Linked DNA regions of Homo sapiens. The protein of the gene in region 1 interacts with the protein of each later gene in a pairwise test. Each region holds a gene or a part of one and is shown in the gene's direction. Other genes may lie near its edges. The genes, in order: CA14 and ZNF273.

Region 1 (2,725 bases):
CCTCCCTTCAACCTAAGAGAGCTGCTCCCCAAACAGCTGGGGCAGTACTTCCGCTACAATGGCTCGCTCACAACTCCCCCTTGCTACCAGAGTGTGCTCTGGACAGTTTTTTATAGAAGGTCCCAGATTTCAATGGAACAGGTAAGTGGTGGAGAAACGAGGTGAGGTGAGACACAGTTGTAACTTCAGACCCCTTCCCACTCCCCAAAGTAACACCTCTCCCACGCTTCTGCTCCTCAGCTGGAAAAGCTTCAGGGGACATTGTTCTCCACAGAAGAGGAGCCCTCTAAGCTTCTGGTACAGAACTACCGAGCCCTTCAGCCTCTCAATCAGCGCATGGTCTTTGCTTCTTTCATCCAAGGTGATTCTGCACGGCTCAGAAGAGATGGGAAACTGAGGGGGACACAATGGCAGGAACTAGGGAGCCAATGGGAAGAAAAGGCTAAAAGGGGAGGGGGTTTCTGGGACTTGCTTGGACTGGGAACCAACCCCCACCCCAGGGTGCCCCCGGGGGATTCTCCCAGGCACAGCAGCAGAGAGTGCTGCTCCCAGCTGGGATGGGGATCTGAAGTCCCACTGACCCATTTTCTTCTCTTACAGCAGGATCCTCGTATACCACAGGTAAGCCAGCCTTATAAGATAATGCGGGGAGGGGAGGTGTCCTCACCGAGTGGGGGAAAGGCTCAAAATCTATGTTAGTCCTAGGCTGACACCTTTTACCTTTATCTCCCCCAGGTGAAATGCTGAGTCTAGGTGTAGGAATCTTGGTTGGCTGTCTCTGCCTTCTCCTGGCTGTTTATTTCATTGCTAGAAAGATTCGGTGAGGCCCTACTTTCCATTCCTCCAGTCCCTTCTTCTTTTTTTTTTTTTTTTTGGTAGGTGGGAGACGGAGTCTTGCTCTGTTACTCAGTCTGGAGTGCAGTGGTGTGCAATCTCAGCTCACTGCAACCTCTGCCTTCTGGGTTCAAGCAATTCTCCTGCCTCAGCCTCCCGAGTAGCTGGGACTACAGGCACGCACCATCACACCCAGCTAATTTTTGTACTTTTAGTAGAGACAAGGTTTCACCATATTGGCCAGGCTGGTCTCAAACTCCTGACCTCAGGCAATTCGCCTGCCTCAGCCTCCCAAAGTACTGGGATTATAGGCATGAGCCACCCGCTTTTTGAGACAGGTTCTCACTGTTGTCGAGGCTGGAGTGCATGGCTTTATCACAGCTCACTGCAACCTCCACCTCCCGGGCTCAAGTGGTCCTCCCACCTCAGCCTCCTGAGTAGGTGGGACTACAGGCATGTGCCACCATGCCCAGATAATTTTTGTATTTTTAGCAGAGACGGGTTTTCACTACATTGCCCAGGCTGGTCTCCAACTCCTGACCTCAAGTGATCCGCCCGCCTCAGCCTCCCAAAGTGCTGGGATTATAGGTGTGAAACACCTTGCCCAGCCCTCTTTTCTGTTAAAAAGCATTCTCCTATTTCACCTCTAATCTGCTTCACTTAGATAGCAGTCATTCTCATGAGCCATTCCCCTTTCCAGGAAGAAGAGGCTGGAAAACCGAAAGAGTGTGGTCTTCACCTCAGCACAAGCCACGACTGAGGCATAAATTCCTTCTCAGATACCATGGATGTGGATGACTTCCCTTCATGCCTATCAGGAAGCCTCTAAAATGGGGTGTAGGATCTGGCCAGAAACACTGTAGGAGTAGTAAGCAGATGTCCTCCTTCCCCTGGACATCTCCTAGAGAGGAATGGACCCAGGCTGTCATTCCAGGAAGAACTGCAGAGCCTTCAGCCTCTCCAAACATGTAGGAGGAAATGAGGAAATCGCTGTGTTGTTAATGCAGAGAACAAACTCTGTTTAGTTGCAGGGGAAGTTTGGGATATACCCCAAAGTCCTCTACCCCCTCACTTTTATGGCCCTTTCCCTAGATATACTGCGGGATCTCTCCTTAGGATAAAGAGTTGCTGTTGAAGTTGTATATTTTTGATCAATATATTTGGAAATTAAAGTTTCTGACTTTAATTCTGGCCTATCCTTTGAGGCTCTTGAGGGTGGGCAAGTTCCTGAATCCCTCAGGTGGTAAAGATGGGCAAAGGATGGGGAAAAGAAGCATGGGTGATTAACTCCTTTTATCCCACCCCTGGAAGGAAAGATAAGCTTCTGGGAAGACACTTAACCCAAAGTTTCAGACATGTTAAACCACTAGCCCAGATTTCTGCCCTTGCACCAAGGCTATGCTTGGAAATCAGTGGTTGCCAGGTTAGGAAAGTGGCTGGATGAGAGATCTGAGGACAGAAATCTCAATTAACATGCTATCCCCTCCCTTAAAAGCCAAGTTCCCCCACAATTACAAATTCTTTTTTATTAGTCAAAATCACAATCACCTTGATTAAAAGGATGGGACACTCCACCCTCAGCAGAAAATGATACAGTTTATAGAAAACCTCCCCGCCCCTCCCACACCCCAATTAAAAACTACAAAAAAATCTCCCCTCCTTCCCTACGATGTCATGGTAGTCTGACTCCTCCAGTGGCACTGCAGCTCTGGAGTGGCCAGCTCACCACAGCACCCTCCACTTCACCTTGGGGAGAGGAGGGATGCTGGTGGTTAAGGAGGTTAAAACCATTAGTTCCAGTAATGCCAGTTCCCAAACATGCACTTCCTTCCTTTCCCCCAAGGTCTGGGACCAAGGAGAAAGGGACCGAAATGAGCCCAGCCATGAGGAG
Region 2 (3,822 bases), on another chromosome or scaffold:
TGGCCCCCCAAAGTGCTGGGATTATAGGTGTGAGCCACCGCGCCCAGCCATAATGTTTTCTTTATCCGGTCTACTATTGATAGACATTTAGGTTGCTTCCATGTCTTTGCTCACAAGTACTATTGTGTATAGTGCTGCAATGAACATGCATTTGCATGTGTCTTTATAATAGAATAATTTATATTTTGGGGGGTATATAGAGTATTTTTGGGGTATTCAGGTTGCTGAATCAAATGGTAATTTTGATTTTAGTTCTTTGAGAAATCATCACACTGCTTTCACAGTGGTTGAACTAATTTATACTCCCACTAACAGTGTATAAGTATTCTTTTTTTTTTGCAGCCTTGCAAGCATCGTTTTTTTTTGTTTGTTTGTTTGTTTTTGTCTTTTTATTAATAGCCATTCTGACTGGTATGAGATTGTATCTCACTGTGGTTTTTCTTTACGTTTCTCTAATGATTAATAATGAGCATTTTTTAATATGCTTGTTAGCCACATGTGTGTCTTCTCTTGAAGAACATCTGTTCATGCTTTTTTCCTAGTTTTTTTTTTCTGGCAAACTTGCTTAAGTTCTTTATTAATTTTGGATATTAGACATTTGGCAGAAGCATAGTTTGCAGATATTTTCTATTGTTCTGTAGGTTGTCTTTTTACTCTGTTGATAGTTTCCTTTGGTGTGAAGAAGCTCTTTAGTTTAATTAGGTCTTATTTGTCCATTTCTGCTTTTGTTGCAATTGCTTTTGGTATCCTCAACATGAAATATTTGCCAGTTCCTATATCTAGAATGGTCTTTCCTAGGTTATCTTCCAGGGCTTTTGTATAATTTTAAGTTTCAAATTTAAGTCTTTAATTTATCTTGAGTTGACTTTTGTATGTAGTGTAAGGAAGGGGTCCAGTTTCAATCTTATACATAGTACTAGCTAGTTATTCCAGCACCATTAAACAGGGAATTCTTCCCACATTCCTCTTGTCAGCTTTGTAGAAGATCAGATGGTTGTAGGTGTGTGGCATTATTTCTGGGCTCTCTGTCCTGTTGCATTGGTCTATGAGCCTGTTTTTTGTTTTGTTTTGTTTTGTACCAGTACCATGCTGCTTTGGTAACTGTAGCCTGGTAGTATAGTTTGAAGTCTGGTAATGTAATGACTCCAGCTTTGTTCTTTTTGCTTAAGATTGCCTTGGCTATTCAAGTTTTGTTTGTTTTTGTTTCATATGAATTTTAAAATAGTTTTTTTTTCTGTTAAGAATCTTTTTGGTAATTTGATAAAATAGCATTAAATCTGTAATTTATTTTTTTTTTTTTTTTGAGACGAAGTTTTGTTTTTATTGCCCAGGCTGGAGTGCAATGGTGCAATCTCGACTCACTGCAACCTCCGCCTCCTAGGTTCAAACAATTCTCCAGCCTCAGCCTCCTAAGTAGCTGGGATTACAAGCATGCACCACCATGCCTGGCTAATTTTTCTATTTTTAGTAGAGATGGGGTTTCGTCGTGTTGGCCAGGTTGGTCTCAAACTCCTGACCCCAGGTGATCCACCCACCTCGGCTTCCCAAAGTGCTGGGATTACAGGCGTGAGTGAGCCACTGCACTGGGCTAAAGTGTGTACCTTTAATGCCTAGTTTGTTGAAGGTTTTTTACATGAAGTATGTTAAATTTTATCAAAAGCTTTCTCTGCAGCTATTGAGATAATCTTGTGGGTTTTGTCTTTAGTTTTGTTTATGTGATAAATAGCATTTATTGATTTGTGTATGGTGAACCAACTTTGCATTTTAAAGACAAAGCCTACTTGATTATAGTGAACTAGCCTTTTTTTTTTTTTTGAGATGGAGTTTCACTCTGGTTGCAATGGCATGATCTCAGCTCACTGCAGCCTCTGCCTCCTGGGTTCAAGTGATTCTCCTGCTCCAGCCTCCCAAATAGCTGGGATTACAGGCATGCGCCACCATGCCTGGCTAATTTTGTATTTTTAGTGGAGACAGGGTTTCTCCATGTTGGTCAGGCTGGTTTCGAACTCCCGACCTGAGGTGATCCACCCGCCTTAGCCTCCCGAAGTGCTGGGATTACAGGTGTGAGCCACTGTGCCTGGCCAAGTTATTTGTATTTTTGTATGTTCAGTGGTAATGTTCATTTTGTCATTTCTAATTGTATTTATTTGAATCGTCATTAATCTCGCTATTGGTTTATTTTATTAATTTTTTCAAAGTTTTAACTTCTGAATTTCTTAATATTTTGTATAGTTTTTTTATGTCTAAATCTCCTTCAGTTCACATCTGATTTTAGTTTTTTCTTGTCTTCTGCTAGTTTAGGGATTTGCTCTTCTCTTATTCTTTTATTTGTGATATTAGGTTGTTAAATCGAGATCTTTCTAACTTTTTGATGTGAGCATTTAATGGCATAAATTTCCCTCTTAACACTGCCTCAGCTGTGTTCCAGGGATACTGGTATGTTGTATTTTTGCTCTCATTTGTTTCAAAAAACTTCTTGATTCCTGTCTCAATTCCATTATTTACCCAAATATCATTCAAGTGCAGGTTAAGTTCCACGTAATTGTATGGCTCACCGTAAACTCTGCCTTCTGCGTTCAAGCGATTTTTGTGCCTCAGCCTACCTAGTAGCTGGGATCACAGGTGCCCGCCACCATACTCAGCTAATTTTTCTAATTTTAATAGAGTCGACGTGGTTTCACCATGTTGGCCAGGCTGGTCTTGAACAGATCTGAGGTGATTCGCCCGCCTCGGCCTCCCAAAGTATGGGGATTACAGGCGTGAGCCACCATGCCTGGCCATTTATGTTGTTTTTAGTTGGAGAGTTCTGTAGATTTCTATTAGGATTATTTGATCAAGTATTGAGTTTAGGTCCTAATATCTTTGTTAATTTCCTGCCTCAATAATCTGTCTAATAGTGTCTGTGGGGTGTTGTTTTCTTCCACTATTACTGTGCTAGAATCGAAGTCTCTTCATAGGTTTCTAAGAACTTGCTTTATTCATGTGCACTCATGAATAACACCTCTTTTCTTCTGTTCCCCCCACCCCATAAACATTCTTTAAAGTGCACACAGTGTGCCCAAGGCTACTCCTTAGATGCCTGAATCCAGTTATCTACTGAGTTCAGATGTCCAAGAGTTCAAGAGCATGTCCTGAGACCTGGCTGTTGTAGGAGAAAATATAAATTAGAAATAAGAGGCTTTATGATTCTGTTTCCTGAAAATAAGGGAGAATATTTTGCTCTTCTCTGTTTTCTTAAAGCATTTAGATTATATGTAGATATTTTTCTGCTTTTTTGAATATATGTAAATCATATGAACAGCTAAATAAACCCTTTGTTTTTCTTTTTGACTCAGGATTCATTTTAGTTTTTTTTTTTTTTTTTTTTGAGATTGAGTTTCGCTCTGTCATCCAGGCTGGAGTGCAGTGGTGCGATCTTGGCTCACTGCAACCTCCGCCTCTTGGGTTCAAGTGATTCTCTTGTTTTAGCCTCCCAAGTAGCTGGGACTACAGGTGTACACCACCATGTCCAGCTAATATTTGTATTTTTAGTAGAGATGAGGTTTCGCCATGTTGGCCAGGCTGGTCTCGAACTCCTGACCTCAGGTGATCTATCCACCTGCCTTGACCTCCCAAAGTGCTGGGATTACAGGCCTGAGCCACTGCACCCGGCCAGCAACTTATTTTCTATTCTTGCAGATCCAGTGATTGTTTCACAAGTCACAAAAAAGTAAATATAAACACAATAAAAATTCCTTTAAACTACATTGAAATTTTCCTTTCTGTGTCTCTCTCATCTGTCTATATTTTGTTTTTATTCTATGCATTTTTTAAAAAATCAGT

Evidence for each region.
Region 2: the proteins of CA14 (region 1) and ZNF273 interact in a two-hybrid assay, tested with the Homo sapiens proteins (one large-scale study listed by BioGRID and IntAct).

The regions. Positions count from the first base shown.
Region 1 is NC_000001.11:150,263,059-150,265,783, forward strand, and holds the end of CA14 (carbonic anhydrase 14 precursor), read left to right. Parts: coding exon 1-141; intron 142-240; coding exon 241-361; intron 362-600; coding exon 601-621; intron 622-735; coding exon 736-820; intron 821-1,534; coding exon 1,535-1,601; coding exon of another isoform or gene 1,602-1,632; 3' UTR 1,633-2,020; downstream 2,021-2,725. UniProt on the Homo sapiens protein: Reversible hydration of carbon dioxide.
Region 2 is NC_000007.14:64,909,480-64,913,301, forward strand, and holds part of ZNF273 (zinc finger protein 273), read left to right. Parts: intron 1-3,822. UniProt on the Homo sapiens protein: May be involved in transcriptional regulation.